Regions from separate parts of the Homo sapiens genome. Here region 1 is linked to region 2. Evidence: fine-mapped expression QTL. A gene starts in region 2. The other region holds a variant in brackets. All regions are shown on one strand. Distances are between the middles of the regions. Region 1 overlaps BCAS3 (BCAS3 microtubule associated cell migration factor). Region 2 holds the start of BCAS3 (BCAS3 microtubule associated cell migration factor).

Evidence for each region. PIP is the estimated chance that this variant, and not a neighbour inherited with it, causes the effect.
Region 1: its variant is the best candidate, but not a certain one, in a credible set for the expression of BCAS3 in testis (GTEx, PIP 0.75).

The regions. Positions count from the first base shown.
Region 1 is chr17:61,239,887-61,249,427 of GRCh38, reverse strand. The region is part of intron 22 of BCAS3 (BCAS3 microtubule associated cell migration factor); the gene reads right to left. Among named protein-coding and RNA genes, the nearest start is that of BCAS3-AS1, 110 kb to the right of the region's middle. RefSeq lists enhancers at 3,177-3,702, 3,703-4,228. The variant T/G (reference allele first, on the strand shown) is at 3,870.
Region 2 is chr17:60,673,000-60,682,540 of GRCh38, reverse strand. It overlaps BCAS3 (BCAS3 microtubule associated cell migration factor), which reads right to left and starts at 4,690. Exons shown (of 24, transcript NM_017679.5): 1 at 4,627-4,690; 2 at 3,001-3,088. The coding sequence starts at 3,083. RefSeq lists enhancers at 4,649-4,798, 4,969-5,138 and a silencer at 4,557-5,310.

The DNA.
Region 1 (9,541 bases), 570 kb before region 2:
AACTTTTCTCATCCTAGTTTAAGGAGTGCTCTGCTCTGGGAACATCAAAAAAAGGCACAGGCCTGAACTGAGCCAAATACCCACTCTAGCAGTGCTGGTATTATTTTCAAGTTTCTATTTTATTTTATTTATTTATTTTTGAGATGGAGTTTCACTCTTGTTGCCCAGGCTGGAGTGCAGTGGTGTGATCTCGGCTCACTGCAGCCTCTGCCTCCTGGGTTCAAGTGATTCTCCTGCCTCAGCCTCCCGAGTAGCTGGGATTACAGGCACCCGCCACCATTCCCGGCTAATTTTTTGTATTTTTAGTAGAGATGGGGTTTCACCATGTTGGCCAGGCTGGTCTCAAACTCCTCACCTCAGGGGATCTACCTGCCTCGGCCTCCCAAAGTTCTGGGATTACAGGCGTGAGCCACCAAGCCCAGCCAAGTTTCTTATTTTAAAAACAAATTTTTGCAGGAATAGTAGAATACACAGGAAAAGAATATATATTCATCTAAACAACGTCTTATCTTTAAGAGCAAAGAAGAAGGAAGTTTTATAAGTATTTGACAGTATACTACTTCTTTAAGATACTCCAAGTGGTTTGAAGTGTAAAAGGTGAATATACTGCTTCAAACCTCTTGACCTACAGGTCTAAAATAGTCGCTCATCTTGTCCTATGTGTCCTAGTACAGACTAAATAGAATATTCAAAGAAGTCCTGGTATCATTTGTGTTAGGGGCCTTAAAAATCAGGCTATCAGGGTTGGTCATCTGCCACAAAGCTGGCTAAATTCCCACCATGATACACTTCTGAAATAACCATTCAGGACTGAGGTCACTGCTACTTCCTCCCTGCTGAGGAAGCACAAACCAGACAAATTCTCACCAGATGGACTTTGCACTCTAATCTTGTATATTACCCCTCCTCCCAAGGCCCAAGGCTCTCTGGGAATTCATGCCAGGCTGGGACTTAGACCTTCAACTGCCAGTATCTTTACGAGTTGTTTTCTTTGAAAGACCTGAGAAATGGGTTGCAATAATCATAGGAATGGTCCTTTAGATTTTCTTTTTGGAATTTTTTAAAGTAGTATCAGCCACAATTCACAAATATATTCCTTTACCCAAGACAGAAAACATAGAGACAAATTATGTTAAACCATCCAATCCAACTCAGAAGAAAAAATCAGGCCTTTATGTGCTCCAGTCTTCAGAAGGACTCAAATAGGGTACCACCTACAAAAGAGATAGGATCAGAAGAAGTTCCCTTGGTGGCTTTGTTGGGGAAAGGATCCAAGAAGTGCTCAGAAAAGCAGAAAGCTCTCCAAAAGAAGCTAATTCAAAAGAGATTTCCAAGTCAACATCCAAACCAAAGAGATGTGGAAAAATTCAGAAAAGCATCCTAACAAAACATCCCAACAAAGTACCCCAACTCCTTTTTGTAAACCCACAACTGGTAGGAACAAAGTTCCAATGTGACAGCCTTTCAATGCCGCAAGTTGTAACCACAAGTGCGGCTGCTCTTCTAACATTATTTTCTTTGGGAAAATTACATGGGTGGGTAGGGAAGCAAACCCAAGAGGACTGCAGTTTACAAGGCCTGAGGCCTGGTTGGTGAGATCCAAGGAACCTAGAGGCGGGGGCCTGATGGTAGATAGGAGAAAACTAAGCTGATTGCACAAAAGGGCTAAGATCTCCAGCCACTCATCAGGTAGAGTATGCTGCTCTCTACTTGCAAAACTGCTTAATAAAATTTTACTGCCAAGTCAAAAGAAGAAACATCTGCTGTAGTCAAGAGCAGCTGTGGTCGGCAATAAGGGACTTGGCACATGGTCAATGCTGCTCTTGCTGGTAGGTGGTATTGTGGTCACCAGTAATTACTTTGGAGAATTTCATGGAGTCAAGGATAACTAAATGGACAAAGAACATTTTATTTTACTTTCTATCTTTAGCCCAAGAGCAAAAATCGTGACATGTACAGAATTCAGAAGCCCAATGAATCCATACTTTTTGTGGCAGAACTTTTTACCTCAAAGACTAGAAATACTTAAATATAAGTATTTTAAACAATATATTTTTGATAAGTGACCTCTCCACTCATTATTTCTGATTGAACGGTTCCTGAAGATTATACTAGTTTTCAAGTGTTTTCCTTCTGAAAGATGTATTATAGAATACTATAAGAAAAATGTGAAAATTATACTTAGCAAATCAATAAATGGTTCAGGTTTTTAAAAACCTCATCTTTATCAAATTTGCATGCTATCGTCAAAGTTAAATAACTTTACATTGAGTAGGAATTGGAGTGTAAATAAAAGTCTGATGTATTCATCTGTGATAATTTCTCATGGAATGATGAATGTCAGAAAGTAGCAGTGAAATTAATATACACTGTACTTAAAAAATTAAACACTTGGGAAATAACCCTTTGAGCCACTGGAAAATGATAAAGTCTAAGACATTTCAATCAAGTTAATTTCGGTACTAAAGCAATGCATTTTTCCCACCAGAAACTATATGAAAAAACAAATTAAACAAAATGGGTCTCCGAATGATGGGATAACATCAGGCTCATGGAAAACATCATGATTGCTTTGTCAATTAGGTTATCACACACATACACACACACACACACACACACACACACACACACACACTCTCACTCAAAGGCAAAACTACCCATATTCATTTTAAATCATGTCAAGGCTGAATGGTTGATATTGTATTAAAACAAAAGCATGACTTGCATTTTAATAAAGAAAAGGAAATTCTCTTGACAACCAACAGAGCTAACTTGTAGCAACTGGTCTAATTCCAGTACACAGGCTCCAGTGATGCCGTGTCAGGTGCCACCCCTAGCCTACACCTAACACCAAGGCTCCTACATTGACTTCTGGTTGGTTGCGGAAGTAAAAGGAGAGACCTAGGGGACTGGGGGAAACAACATAAATCTTTTTTTTTTTTTTTTTTTTTTTTTTCTGAGACAGTCTTGCTCTGTTACCCAGGCTGGTGTGCAGTGGCACCATCTCGAGTCTTAGCAACCTCTGCTTCTGTGGTCCTCTCGCCTCAGCCTCCTCAATAGCTGGGACTACAGGCACATGCCACCATGACTGGCTAATTTTTGTATTTTTTGTAGAGATGGGGTTTCGTCATGTTGCCCAGGCTGGTCTTGAACTCCTGGACTCAAGCCATCTGCCTGCCTCAGCCTCCCAAAGTGCTGGGATTACAAGCGTGAGCCACTGTACCCGGCCATAGCAACCTATTTAAAAGCTATTCCTGACTTGACCATCTCCAGAAAGCCATCTTAGATCAGTTATGAGGTCGTGATAGTTGTAAGACTCTCCCAGGATAGAAGAGAATTCCTGTCAGTGTGTGAGGTAGGCCAAATCTGGGTGTTAGAAGGCAGAATTCTAAAGTCTCAGCCCTCCCAATCACTGTGGAACCCTGGGTGGATCACCTGAGCTCTCACAGCTTCAGTTTTATTCACGTTAGGGGAGGTGACCTTCCAGCTTCAGCCTCACGCTGAGTGCACCAATAATGGACCCCTGGATTCTGAAGAGCTGCCCATCAGCTCCACAGCCTTCCTGACCTTGCACTAGGCAGTAGGTACCTCCACTCAACAACAATCTCTTTTTTTTTCTTTCAATGAGACAGAACTTCATTAACATGAAAAAGAAGTACTAAATGTAGGTGCTCCCTTAGGAACTGCTTTTTCTGAGAGCCCAATAGCTCATCTTGTTATGTTAAAGCCTACCATCTGAAACCACTTGAATGTTAGGCAGGGAGGTACTTCTACAACTTTGATTTGAACATATACAATTTTTCTACCAAAGAGAAAAACTAATTGACACATTGTTTGGAAACAACTTTTCACTTTTTAAAATGAACAGT[T/G]TTATACAGCTCAATAATATTTGCTTAAATACTTCCTAAAATTAAGCCGAGTGTGGTAGTACATGCCTGTAGTACCAGCTTCTCGGGGGGCTGAGGTGAGAGGATCACTTGAGCCCAGGAGTTGAATCCAGCCTTGGCAACATAACAAGACCCTGTCTCTAAAAAATAAATAAAAATAAATACTTACTGATATCGTTTGGCTGTGTCTCCACCCAAATCTCATCTTGACTTGTAGTTCCCATAATCCCCATGTGTCCTGGGAGGGACCAGGTGGAGATAATTGAATCATGGGGGCAGTTTCCCCATCCTGTTCTTGTTTTAGTGAGTTGGTTCTCACGAGATCTGATGGTTTTCTAAGGGGCTTCCCCCTTCACTGGGCACTCATTCTTCTCTCTGCAACCACGTGAAGAAGGACGTGTTTGCTTCCCCTTCCGCCACGATTTTAAGTTTCCTGAGGCCTCCCCAGCCATGCAGAACAGTGAGTCCATTAAACCTCTTTCCTTTATAAATTACCCAGTCTCGGCTATGTCCTTACAGCAGCGTGAGAATGGACTGATACACTTACTAAAATTATAGTCTATTACACCACATTTAGAAAGATGAATAATGAAATCACAAAATACTATGCAATTGCAGTTAAATCTTTAAAAAATTGCTCCTTCCCTATATATCCTTTTTTATTTATTTATTTTTTTTGAGACGGAGTCTCACTCTGTTGCTCAGGCTGGGGTACAGTGGCGCGATCTCGGCTCACTGCAAGCTCTGCCTCCTGGGTTCATGCCATTCTCCTGCCTCATTCTCCCAAGTAACTGGGACTACAGGTGCCCACCACCACGCCCTGCTAATTTTTTGTATTTTTAGTAGAGATGAAGTTTCACCGTGTTAGCCAGGATGGTCTCGATCTCCTGACCTCGTGATCCGCCCGCTTTGGCCTCCCAAAGTGCTGGGATTACAGGCATGAGCCACCGCGCCGGGCCTATATATCCAATTTTTAAAAATATAGACTGAATAAAGTATGTGAGATTTGGGTAATTTTAACAGTAAATTAAAATAATACTCTGAATTTTACCTATTGTTATTCTTTTGTAACACATATTTTTGTTGACTTCTAGTCACCCTGTTTCCAAACTGTCTTTGTTCATGATATTCACAATATAGTGCTAAGTAAAAAAGCAAAGGAAAACACATTCATTACTGGACAGGTAAGACTCATTACCTAATGGTAAATAAGCTCAGTGTGATTTCATTTTACAAACAATAGCGTATATATGTGTGTATACAAATGCATAGAAGAATCTTAATAAATACCATAATGTTAATAGTTGTTAACTGTAGGTAAGGAAATTACAAGTGATTTTAGTTTTCTTTTTTCTTCTGTTTTTTCTTAAGCTTTTTAAATAATAAATATGTATTACTTGAGTTAAAAAAAGAGGTTTAAAAATGCTTTAATTTGACATATTATTCTTTTAAAACTTGAAGTAATTAGCATATTAAAACTCATCCCTTTGGGAGGCTGAGACAGGGAGAATCACTTGAGGCCAGGAGTTCAGGACCAGCTGGGGCAACATAGCAAGACTCTGTCTCTTGAAAAAAAAAACTTAAAAAATTAGCAGGTTGTGGTAGTGCACACTGATATTCCCAGCTACTTGGGAGGCCCAGGTGGGAGGGCTGCTTGAGCCTAGGAGTTTGAGGCTGCAGAGACCTATGGTCATACCAGCGCACTCCAGCCTGGTTGACAGAGCAGATTCCAACTCTTTAGGAAAGAACCAAAACACTCATCCCTCAACTACATAAAATAGTTATAAGTTATTATTTTCCCTGAAGTCTCTAGCAGTCACTTCGTCCATGATGGATATTTCTGGCAGGGAACTGTGCTACATGAAGGAAGTGAATGAAAGTCCTGAAAATCAGGATAATGGTGATTACCCTTGATTCAATCAAACTGTACTCAATTCTAAGTCTTCTTATACTGTCTTTATATTTTCTTGAGACACACTTATGACATTCCTCAAAAAATTAAAAATAAAACCACCATATGACCCAGCAGTCCCACTGCTGGGTGTATATATCAAAAGGAACTGAAATGTGGATCTCGAAGAGGTATCTCCACTTCACTGTATGGAACGTTCACTGTAGCATTATGCACAATAGTCAAGATGTAGAAGCAAACTAAATGTCCATCCATGAATGAATGGATAAAGAAAATATAGTATATAGACACAATGGAATATTACTCAGCTTTAAATAAGAAAGAGATTCTGCCAGAGCAGCAGGTAACTTTTGGAGGTGATGGATAGGTATATACGTATCTCCATACTCATCACAGTGTAGACATTAAATGTGTATAGCAGTAGGGCGCAGTGGCTCATGCCTGTAATCCCAGCACTTTGGGAGGCCGTGGCGGGCGGATCACGAGGTCAGGAGATGGAGGCCATCTTGGCCAACATGGTGAAACCCCATCTCTACTAAAAATACAAAAATTAGATGGGTGTGGTGGTGCGCGCCTGTAGTCCCAGCTACTTGGGAGGCTGAGGCAGGAGAATTGCTTGAACCCAAGAGGCAGAGGTTGCAGTGAGCCGAGATCGCACCATTGCACTCCAACCTGGTGACATGGTGACAGAGCAAGACTCCGTCTCAAAAAAAAAAAAAGTGTATAGCTTTTTGTATGTCAATCATATCTCAATAAAGTTTTTTGGGTTTTTTTGTTTTTTTTTAAAGAATTCCATTTGGAAGAAATTGGTGTTAATTCATGAAGGCAGTGAAGGAGGCAATAATCTTTAGAGAACTGTGATAAGCTGTGATCACTATTACTTCAATTCAACATTGGCTCAGAAAAAGAATAAACTTATGTAAGCAAAAACAAGGCTGACTGGTAGAAGATAGGCTCTGGACATATATTTTCCCTTAGCTTCTTAAATTCCAGACTCTTTGAATCTTATGAGATTTTAACCACAGGTTCTGCCATAGCTTTTTGCAAATTTGCATTCAGTGATGTCCTTCTAAATGGGAGAAGGGTCTAGGCATCACAGGCGGGTCTTGTCACGTCTAAAGGATCTCATATGAAGGGAGGAGGGCTACACTCTATGCCTAGCAACATTAACCAAACGTGTATTTGGTCTAAAATAGACTTCCAAGTTACTCAAACCTCACTATAAATATGTGTTTTAAGGTACTGTGAGACTTGTCAAAGGGCTAACCAGCACACATCTCAAGGTCTCCTTTAGGTCAGACCCTGATATTTACACTGTCTTCCTGATGTTTGGATTTTTTTTTTTTTTTTTTGAGACAGAGTTTCACATTTGCTGCCCAGGATGGAGTGCAATGGTGCAATCCTGGCTCACTGCAACCTCCACCTTCCAGGTTCAAGCAATTCTCTTGCCTCAGCCTCCTGAGTAGCTGGGATTACTGGCATGCGCCACCACGCCCAGTTAATTTTGTATTTTTAGTAGAGACGGGGTTTCTCCATGTTGGTCAGGCTGGTTTCGAATTCCCAACCTCAGGTGATCTGCCCGCCTCGGCCTCCCAAAGTGCTGGAATTACAGGTGTGAGCCACCACACCCAGCCAATGTTTGGATTCTTTACCTTGGATAACAAGAGCCATTTCTGGTCCCAGATATACTTAACACTGAGAAATGATTCCTCTTTAGTAAACAACAAACAAACAAGAAAAAACCTGAATATTATACTATTATGAAAGCTCTCAGATTTCTCAGAAACATTTAACATTTATTCAACAAAATTTTATTTTACATGTTAAATGATGTTAGTAGAGAAAAAATAGGTAAGTACATTTTTTAGACTCATTTTACCTCCAAACTATTATTCTTATTATTATTTTTTGAGATGGAGTCTCCCTCTGTTGCCCAGGCTGGAGTGCACTGGCACGATCTCGGCTCACTGCAAGCTCTGGCTCCTGGGTTCACGCCATTTTCCTGCCTCATCCTCCCGAGTAGCTGGGACTACAGGCACCCGCCACCACGGCCGGCTAATTTTTTTTTGTAATTTTTTTTTAGTAGAGGTGGGGTTTCACCGTGTTAGCGAGGATGGTCTTGATCTCCTGACCTCGTGATCCGCCTGCCTCGGCCTCCCAAAGTGTTGGGATTACAGGGGTGAGCCACTGCGCAGGCCCAAACTATTATTTTATTAAGCTTATTTACTTTGACTTCTCTTTCATCATTAGCATAAACAGTTGGCTAAGGTGTGTGTGTTTTAAGTCACAAGATGAAACAAGCAGAGGACAACAGAGCCAAAGGAAGACGTGGGTACTTGGTGGTAAACAGGCTCACTCACTAGCTTCATCACTTGCTAAGCTAAATACCAACCTACAAATTCGTAGTAATAACAGAGTCCTCACTGACTTTTGCAATCACATTCAAATAGTCAAGCCTCTAATATTAAATCCACATATTCAGTGTGCCCACTATATGAGGGTCCCCCAAAGAAAGCTTAACTGTATTGTAATTGCTATTCAGAGTCTTTTGAAGGGTAAGTGATGGAGAGTGAGAACTGAGGGGGCGGAAGCTCTAGAAGGTTTCTCATGGCAAAAATCCTGTCATGCCCAAACAAGAGAAAGCTCCCCAGTAAGAGTGGCATATTGAAATCTAATCAAAAGCCTAAACTATTTTTGTCTTTGATTTCATCAAATCATTCTAAGAATAACAGCCCTTGGTACCTTTTAAAAATGCTTCTTTTCGGGAAGAAAGTTTTAGTTAAGATATACTTCTGTGTGTCTGAGATCAATTTAAAAGAAATGGACCCTTTAGTTATAGGGCTCAATGATATAGGTAAATGAATCTGTTCTAGTGAATAACATAAAATCTGTTTTAAACTTTTTAGTGTATGTGTGCTAAGGCTGATAAGTCTCAGATAAATGTCAGCTACACTTGTTCCTTTTTATTATTTATTTATTGAGATGGAGTCTCTGTTGCCTAGGCTGGAGTGCAGTGGCACAATCTCAGCTCACTGCAACCTCTGCTTCCTGAGTTCAAGCGATTCTCCTGCCTCAGCCTCCAGAGTAGCTGGGATTACAGGCGTGCGCCACCACGCCTGGCTATTTTTTTTTGTATTTTTAGTAGAGATGGGGTTTCACCATGTTGGCCAGGCTGGTCTCAAACTCCTGGCCTCAAGTGATCCACCCGCCTTAGCCTCCCAAAGTGCTGGGGTTACAGGTGTGACCCACTGTGCTTGGCCCCACTTGTTCCTTTTTAATATCATGGTATAGTGAAAAGAATATGGACCTTGGAATCAGAGAAACCTGAGTTCAAAGCCTGTCCCTACCACTTATCTTCTCTTAGGCTGTTTTTGAATCTGTGAAATAAAAATACTATTCTACCCGCCAGGATGGTTGTAAGTAGAAGAAATTATGTCTGTAGAGTGCCTAGAGGAGTGCCTATGATAGAGCAGGCATTCAATAAATGGTAGCTCCTCCTCCTGCTGCTGCTGCTGCTGCTGTTGAGACAGCATGGTTACAGATCTCAAACATCTACAAGATGCTTTTCTCTTCACCAAAACACCTGTCACCAGGAGAATGTAAATGCCCACACAGAAAACCCCAATCAAAATATTTTTATCACACATATATTTAACATTCAAGTGCAGAACTTTTAGGGCTGAGAACTTCCAACACAACAATTATGGCTTCACATACCTGAGTGTTCTTTTAAAAAAATATA
Region 2 (9,541 bases):
AAAAAAACAACAACGAAAAAATCAAAATACTAATTCAAATCCATTTCAAGAGATGTGAAAAATCACACTTGAAAATAATATGATTTATCATAAATCCTATTAAAAAAGCAATATGCCCTAGAGACCTACAAAAATCGATTAGGCCTAAAAAAGAAAATTATTAGGCTACCTCTCCAACCTCATTTTTTGCCACTCTCCTTATTCTGATTCAGCCATATGCAACTTCAATTCCTAGCACACACCAAGTTCTTCTTTGAATCAAGACCTTTATACCACCTTTCTTTCTATCTGGATTCCTTCCCATCCCCTTCCCTTCCTTTTAGTTCTCCGGGTTAAGTGCTGCCTCCTTTGAGAGAGCTTCCGGGACAGCCTTATATGTATTCTCCTTTGTCACTCTCCATTGTAGTACACGGTGCACAATCACAGCCTGTCATTATTTTACTTATTCACTTGTTTGCTTCAGCCTAGCCAATTTGATGAAACCCCATCTCTACCAAAAATACAAAAATTAGGCCGGGCGCGGTGGCTCACACCTGTAATCCCAGCACTTTGGGAGGCTGAGGCAGGCGGACCACCTGAGGTTGGGAGTTTGAGACCAACCTGGACAACATGGAGAAACCCTGTCTCTACTAAAAAATACAAAATTAGCCAGGCATGGTGGCGCATGCCTGTAATCCCAGCTAATCGGGAGGCTGAGGCAGGAGAATCGCTTGAACCCAGGAGGCGGAGGTTGCGGTGAGCCGAGATCGTGCCATCGCACTCCAGCCTGGGCAAAAAGAGCGAAACTCCGTCTCAAAAAATATATATATATGTATACAAAAATTAGCCAGGCGTGGTGATCCACATTTGTAATCCCAGCTACTTGGGAGGCTGAGGCAAGAGAATCATTTGAACCCAGAAGGCGGAGGTTGCAGTGAGCCGAGATCATGCCACTGCACTCCAGCCTGGGCAATGGAGCGAGACTGCATCTCAAAAAAAGAAAAAAAAAAGAATAATATATATACATATAAAATATATCTATTTATTTTTCTTATTTTTTGGAAATGAAGTCTTGCTCTTGTCCCCCAGGCTGGAGTGCAGTGGTGCGATCTCAGCTCACTGCAACCTCCGCCTCCCGGGTTCAAGCGATTCTCCTGCCTCAGCCTCCCAAGTAGCTGGGATTACAGGCTATTGCCACCACCCCCAGCTAAGTTTTGTATTTTTAGTAGAGACGGGTTTTCTCCACATTGGTCAGGCTGGTCTCAAACTCCCAACCTCAGGTGATCCGCCCACCTCAGCCTCCCAAAATGCTGGGATTACAGGCATGAGCCACTGCGCCCAGACATATATTTTTTTTAAGACACAGTCTCACTCTGTCACCTAGGCTGGAGTGTAATGGCACAATCACAGCTTACCACAGCTTCAAGCTCCTGGGCCGAGGTGATCCTCCCATCTCAGCCTCCCGAGTAGCTAAGGCTCCAGGCGCCTGCCACAATGCCTGGCTAATTTTTGTATTTTTTTAAGGCATGAGGGTCTCAGGATGTTGTTCAGGCTGGTGTCAAACTCCTGGTTTCAAGCAATCCTCCCATGTCAGCCTTCAAGTATACATATCTTTGGCCAGGCACAGTGGCTCACACATGTAATTCTAGCACTTTGGGAGGCCAAGACAGGCAGATCACCTGAGGTCAGGAGTTCAAGACCAGCCTGGCCAAATGGCAAAACCCCGTCTTTGCTAAAAATACAAAATTTGGCCAGGCCTGGTGGCGCTCGCCTGTAATCCCAGCTACTTGGGAGGCCAAGGCAGGAGAATCGCTTGAATCTGGGAGACAGAGGAGGAGGTGGAGGCTGCAGCGAGCCGAGACGGCGCCACTGCACTCCAACCTGGGCAACAGAGTGAGACTCCATCTAAAAAAAAAAAAAAAGTATACATATCTTCAAACCATATTAGATTATAAACTCACTCTAGTAAGTATAGACATTCTTTGTCAAAGAATGCCAAAAACAGAGACATATACTATGACACTTACTTTGAAACTTTCTGACAGAGACCTAGACTAAGAGATTCCTTTTATAGATAACACATGGATACATAGACGGGAACACCACACACTGGTGCCTATCAGAGTTGGGTGGGAGCGGGGAGAGGGTCAGGAAAAATAACTAATGGGGACTATGCTTAATACCTGGGTGATGAAATAATCTGTACAACAAACCCCTGTGACATGAGTTTCCCTATATAACAAACCTGCACATGTACCCTTGAACTTAAAAGTTAAAAGAGATACATTTTACATCACTGTCTGGTAAATATATACATACACATGAACATATTTATGTGCATGTCATGAAACAATACAAACTCTCAGCTATATTTTCTAATTTTCTATTATATTCTATTTCATTTTCTTTCTTTTTTTTTTTTTTTTTGGAGACAGAGTCTTGCTGTGTCGCCCAGGCTAGGGTGCAGTGGCGCGATCTCAGCTCACTGCAAGTTCCACCTCCCAGGTTCACGTCATTCTCCTGACTCAGCCTCCCGAGTAGCTGGGACTACAGGGGCCACCATACCCGGCTAATTTTTTGTATTTTTAGTAGAGACAGGGTTTCACCGTTTTAGCCAGGATGGTCTCGATCTCCTGATCTCGTGATCCGCCTGCCTGGGCCTCCCAAAGTGCTGGGATTACAGGCATGAGCCACTGCGCCCGGCCTCTATTTCATTTTCTACTACAACTCCTGACCCACTAAACTGATTTAACAATCCACTAATTTGTTAAACCTGGAGTTTGAAAACACTGCTCTTCAGGATTTAGCATAGTGCTCTTCACGTACTCTGTAAATGTGCTGAATACGTCAACTTAACTCTCCAATTCTTCATTTGGTCTTGGCAATTATTATTATTCATCCCATAAAGCCAACAGTTAAAAGATTTTTACAAAAGTAACCACTGTTCATAAAGAAAACCTAAATGTTAGTATTCTGAGTAATCTTTTCTTCAGCTATTGGGTTTATCTGAAATGTGCTTACGTGACAGCCTGGGGGCGAACCACAACTCCACCAGTACAACGACTGGGTCTTCTTGGGGAATCTGTAGCCATAGCTTCATTCATAAAACCTGTTTCCAGAACAAACAAACAAACAAAAAACAGAAAAACATGGATCGTTGTTGGGGGTAGGGAGGAAGATTTATGATTACTCACTAGAGATCCCTTGTCAAAAATGCCTCAAATGTAGGAAACTTTCCCAGAAATTCCTGTTACACCAGAAAGGGAAAAAAGGAGGAAGTAGGTTTTTAATTTTTTTCAAATTATAATGAGGGGTTTGGGGGGTTATTATTATTTTTGAGATAGAGTCTCGCTCTGTCGCCCAGGCTGGAGTTCAGTGGCACGATCTCTGCTCATGGCAATCTCCGCCTCCCAGGCTCAAGCAATTCTCCTGCCTCAGCCTCCTGAGTAGCTGGGATTACAGGCGAGCGCCACCATGCCGAGCTAAATTTTATATTTTTTTGTAGCGACGGGGTTTCACCATGTTGCCAAGGCTGGTCTCGAACTCCTGAGCTCAAGCAATCCATCCGCCTTAGCCTCCCAAAGTGCTGGGATTATAGGCTTGAGCCACCGCGCCCATCCTGTTTTGTTTTTTAATAGGACCAGGTCTCAGAACCACAAAACAATGTAAGGAAGACTCCTGCTGTACCCCTTGGTCTGTTGTTAACATAAATTACAAGGGTGAGAGAACCAGATCATGGGATGGGAATTTACTGCAATTTTATGTTGAGATAGTGAAAATACACATGGTACAATATTTCAAGACCAAACGGAACAAGTGACATGATATCACTCTACCTTCCAATTAAACCTGTTGGGAATCTATGAGTAAATCACAATTTAAATCACATTCGTAACCCCCTGCTACTATAACAAATAAGTCAAGTAATTATTTGACTAGTAGCAAGTAGTCAAATAACTAACATAAACTAATACGTTGTTACAGCCCTTTACCCTTTCCCGTCACATCAGTAAATCCTGATCCTAGAATGTTTCATGACCCTCTGAATCACTGAGATTTTAAGAGCATGGAGTCGGCTTGGTTAAGGTTAAAAGAGGACTGACAGCAATATCAAAGATCTCTTACAGGGCTCAGGGAAGCCCACAACCTGGAACTCATCTTGAAGGCACCGAAAACCATTTTTAAGTAGGGAGCATTCACACCTGATGTGAAAACTCTAAACCTGTGCGCCCCACCTCCTACAACCAAAACACCCTCTGCCCCAAGGAGCAGAGCCACCACCTCCTCAGAGGATACCTGCACCTCCAGCCCCTCAGCCCTCTCATTCTCATCCCATTCTTGCTTTCTCGAACCACAGTCTCCCAAGCCCTGCCCTTTAAGGGCCCTGTCTCCTGGGGACGACCCTCGCCAGCCACTCAGGCCCCAGTCTCCTGAAAGACACTCGTACGGCGCTGCCCACTTAACCTCCAACACGGAGCCACCGCTGCCCCCGGCCGCCCTCCGGCCCCTTGCACTGTTCCCCTCCCCCTCCAGTATCGACACCTCTCTCCTGTCGAATTCCTGCCAGCCCGACCCAGTCCCCTCACGCCGCCAGTCCCTCGTCCTCCCCAAGCCTCCCCAAAGCCAAAGCCCTGCCAGCCCTCTCACCGGCCGCCCCGCCGGTTAACGCTAGTCTCCAGCTCTAGGCTCACTGTTTGGAGTCTCCCCGAGTGATTGACGGCAGCCACTTCCTACCACGCCTCAGCGGAACCACCCCCTCTAGCCAATCCCAGAAGCAAACCGGCTATGGCCGGGCACCGCCCTTGGAGGTCAGCTTCGCCAACCAGCAAGTAGGAAAGAGGCGGACCCGCCTTCTGAATGTGTCCAATCCGCTGGGGCTGGAGGGAAAACACAACAGCATGTAAGTTCGGGTGAAGCCGAGGTGTCAGGTTCGGTTGCAAACGCAGGCAGCTGGGGAATAATTACGAACATGTACATTTTTTTTGGAAGACAGAACCTTCGTGGCTTTGAAAAGAAAAGCAACATGATCCAGACTCCTGTCCCGCTCACGTGAGCGTTTCAGGTTGGAGCCGGAGGACAGGGAGACTGGTCTGTTTACATCGAATTCTCGCGACAGCTGGTTCCAAGCTCGGAGCACGTGGACATGGCAGCTGCCAATCACTTTTAGCTGGCCACTCACCCGTCCCACACCCGCCTTCTGCCCAGCCCTTGGCGATGTGTTTACCTTCCGGGAGCCTAGGCTGGCTCGCGCCGGCGATCAGCCGAGGAGGGGTTGATCTGAATAAGGGGCACGGCCGGTAATCTCAACAATTTGAGCTAGGTTTGTAGACCACTTCTTGCTTCAGTTTCCATCTCCCTTATTGTTGAAGATCGAGATCTCGCCATTGTCATTTCATCAGTTCATTTATTAATATAAGTAGAATAATACTGACTGACTTCTTGAACACTCAGCACAGGCCTTCGTATACTTCATATACAATACTCTAATGTATTATCAAATTTAATGCCAATGACAGGTCCGTGAGGGTATAGCTTATTAACAGGCGTGGTGGGCTGGGCGTGGTGGCTCACGCCTGCAATCCCAACATTTTGGGAAGCCTAGGCGGGAAGATCGCTTGAGGCCAGGAGTTCTAGAACAGCCTGGACAACATGAAGAAACCCCGTCTCTACTAAAAATAGCCAGGTGTGGTGGCCAATGCCTGTAATCCTAGCTACTGGGGAGGCTGAGGCGGAAGAATTGCTTGAACCCAGGAGGCGGAGATTGCAGTGAGCCTATAGATCACGCCATTGCCCTCCAGCACTTTAGCCTGGGTGACAGAGAGTCCCTCTCAAGACAGATAGATAGATAGATAGATAGATAGATAGATAGATAGATAGATACATACATACATACATACATACATACATACATACATACATACATAAAATTTTAAAAAATTTTAAAAAAAGAAATGAAAGAAAAGGCCGGGCACGGTGGCTCACACCTGTAATCCCAGCACTTTGGGAGGCTGAGAGGGGCAGATCACTTGAGGTCAGGAGGTCAAGACCAGCCTTGCCAACTTTGTGAAACTCTGTCTCTACTAAAAATACAAAAATCAGCGGGTTTTGATGGTGCACGCCTGTAATCCCAACTACTCAGGAGGCTGAGGCAGGAGAATCGCTTGAATCCGAGATGTGAAGGTTGCAGTGAGCCGAGATCGTGCAACTGCACTCCAGCCTCTGGGCGACAGAGCAAAACTCTCGCTCAAAAAAAAAAAAAGAAGAAGAAGAAGAAGAAGAATATATTTGGAAATATTGAAATAACTTGATAATGTGGGATTGAAATAACTTGATAATGTGGAATTGTAACATTGAAAAGGAGGCCTAGCATGACTAACTCCATTTTGCTCCTAAACTCCCCACTCCCACCCATCGGTGATATCTAAGTTAACTGCTTTTGCTTATCTCTGCACATAGACTAAGCTAACCAAGGGAGGAATTTATAGTTTAACTTTAAAGCAAGGATGATAATAGTCCCTTCCCAAAACTAACCCCCAAGGAGAAAAGGAGGGTGTACACACAAGTAACAATGTTGAGAGTTTGAGAAAGTATTGTGACCTGACCAGTAACAGAGAGGCTTCAGGCCTCGAGGAACCCTTGCTGGCGCCCAGATGTCTACGGTCATCAGTCACCCCTTGATTCAAACCCTCTCTTCTTCCCCCTGCCCTTAACACAAAAAGAGCCTGAAATGTGTACTAACTTAAGATGGTTCTTCAGGCTGGGTGTGATGGCTCACACCTCTCATCCCAGCACTTTGGGAGGCCGAAATAGGTGGATCACCTGAGATCAGGAGTTCAAGACCAGACTGACCAACATGGAGAAACCCCGTCTCTACTAAAAATACAAAAATTAGCTGGACGTGGTGGTGTGCGCCTGTAGTCCCAGCTACTCGGGAGGCTGGGACAGGAGAATCACTTAAACCCGGGAGGTGGAGGTTGCAGTGAGCCAAGATCAAGGCACTGCACTCCAGCCTGGGCGACAGAGCAAGACTCCAACTTTTTTTTTTTTTTGAGATGGAGTCTCACTGTGTCACCAGGCTGGAGTGCAGTGTCTCAATCTTGGCTCACTGCAACGTCCACCTCGCGGGTTAAAGCGATTCTTCTGCCTCGGCATCCTGAGTAGCTGGGATTACAGGCACCCGCCACCACTCCTGGCTAATTCTTTGCATTTTTAGTAGTGACGGGGTTTCACCATTTTGGCCAGGCTGGTCTTGAACTCCTGACTTCATGTTCCACCCGCCCTGGCCTCCCAAAGTGCTGGAATTACAGGCGTGAGCCACCATGCCCAGCCAAAAAGATGGTTCTTTAGTACATTATTCTGCAATTTTCCGGGTTTGCTAGCTCTCAGAAATAAAGTTACTATCCTTGCTCTAACTCCTTGACTCTTCACCCCTTGGCTGTCATGCAGTGAGCAGAACAAGTTAGGACTCGGTTACAGGATGAAGGTGAGAGGTGAAGCCAGCTGGACTTCCTGGGTAGAGTGGGGACTTGGAGAACTTTTCTGTCTTAGGAGAGGATTGTAAAACACACCAGTCAGCACTCTGTAGCTAGGATTGGAAAACGCACCAATCAGCACTCTGTAGCTAGCAAGGGGATTGTAAGGTGCACCAATCAGCACTCTGTAGCTAGCAAGGGGATTGTAAAATGCACCATTCAGTGATCTGTAAAAACGCACCAATCAACGCTCTGTAGCTAGCAAGAGGATTGTAAAATGCACCAATCAGCACTCTGTAAAATGCACCAATCAGTGCTCTGTAAAATGCACCAATCAGTGCTCTGTAAAACGTACCAATCAGCAGGAGTCTAAAAGCCAATCGTGGGGAAGATTGAAGAAAGGGCACTGTGCTAGGACAGAAACGGAACATGGGCGGGGACAATAAGGGAATAAAAGCTGGCCACTCCCCCCAGCAGCGGCAACCTGCTCCAGGCCCCTTCCACTCTGTGGAAAGCTAAAAGCTTTGTTGTTTCCTTCTTTACAATAAATCTTGCTGCTGCTCATTCTTTGGGTCCATGCCACCTTTAAGAGCTATAACACTCAACGAGAAGGTCCTCGGCTTCGTTCTTGAAGTCAGACCACGAATCCACCGGAAGGAACCAACTCCGGACCCAAAGGGAAAGAATCAAGGATGTTCAAATCCAAGAAACCTTAAAGGTGTTAGAGGAAAAAAAAAAAAGATGTTTTCTGTGTTTTGGGCTTGATCAGCTGAGTGGTGCCATTTACAAATAGGATGAACACTAGCTGAGTTTTACATTTCTTGGTAAATTTCTGTGCCTTCATTGTTTCATCCTTTGTAAATTGTAGAAGGAATAATATGGGCGGGGCGCGGTGGCTCAGGCCTGTAATCCCAACACGTTGGGAGGCCGAGGAGGGCGGATCATGAGGTCAGGAGATCGAAACCATCCTAATGGTGAAACTCCATCTCTACTAAAAATACAAAAAATTAGCCAGGCGTGGTGGCTGGCGCTTGTAGTCCCAGCTACTCGGTAGGCTGAGGCAGAGAATGGCGAGAACCTGGGAGGCAGAGCTTGCAGTGAGCCGAGATCGCGCCACTGCACTCCAGCCTGGGCAACAGAGCAAGACTCCGTCTCCAAAAAAAAAAGAATATTATGAGCCTCATAGGCTTTCTTTTTAGCAGGGGCGTCAGAGGGGGGCAGTTTTGCTGTTACCCAGGCTGGTGTGCAGTAGTGCAATCATAGCTCACTGCAACCTCCAACTCCTCGGCTCATGTGATCCTCCCACCTCAGCCTCCTAAGTAGCTGGGTTTACAGGCACACACCAACATGCTGGCTAATTAAAAAATTTTTTTCTGTAGAGACAGGGCCTCCCTATGTTGCCCAGGCTGATCTTGAACTCCGGAGCTCAAGTGATTCTCCCATCTCAGCCTCCCAAAGTGCTGGGATTACAGGTGTGAACCACTGCACCCGACCCCATAGGCTTTTTATGACTAAATAAGTTTTTTTTTCTTTTTTTTTTTTCTTTTGAGACAGAGTCTCACTCTGTCACCTAAGCTGGAGTGCAGTGGCACGATGTGGGCTCACTGCAACCTCCACCTCCCGAGTTAAAGCAGTTCTTTTTGCCTCAGCCTCCTGAGTAGCTGGGACTACAGGTGTGCACCACCATGCCTGGCTAATTTTTGTATTTTTAGTAGAGACGGGGTTTCACCATATTGGCCAGGCTGGTCTGGTTTCACCATATTGGCCAGGCTGGTCTGGAACTCCTCATCTCGTGATCTGCCTGACTCGGCCTCCCAAAGTGCTGGGATTACAGACGTGAGCCACCACTGCGCCTGGCCATTTTTTCTTTCTTTCTTTTTTTTTTTTTTTTTTTTGAGACAGAGTGTCAGTCTGTCTCCCAGGCTGGAGTGCAGTGACACAATCATAGCTCACTGCTACCTTGACTTCCCAGACTCAAGTGATCCTCCCACCTCAGCCTCCTGAGTAGCTGGGACGGCAGACCTGCACCACCACTCCTGGTAATTTTTGTATTTTTTATTTTCTTTTTCTTTTTTTCTCTTTCTTTTTTT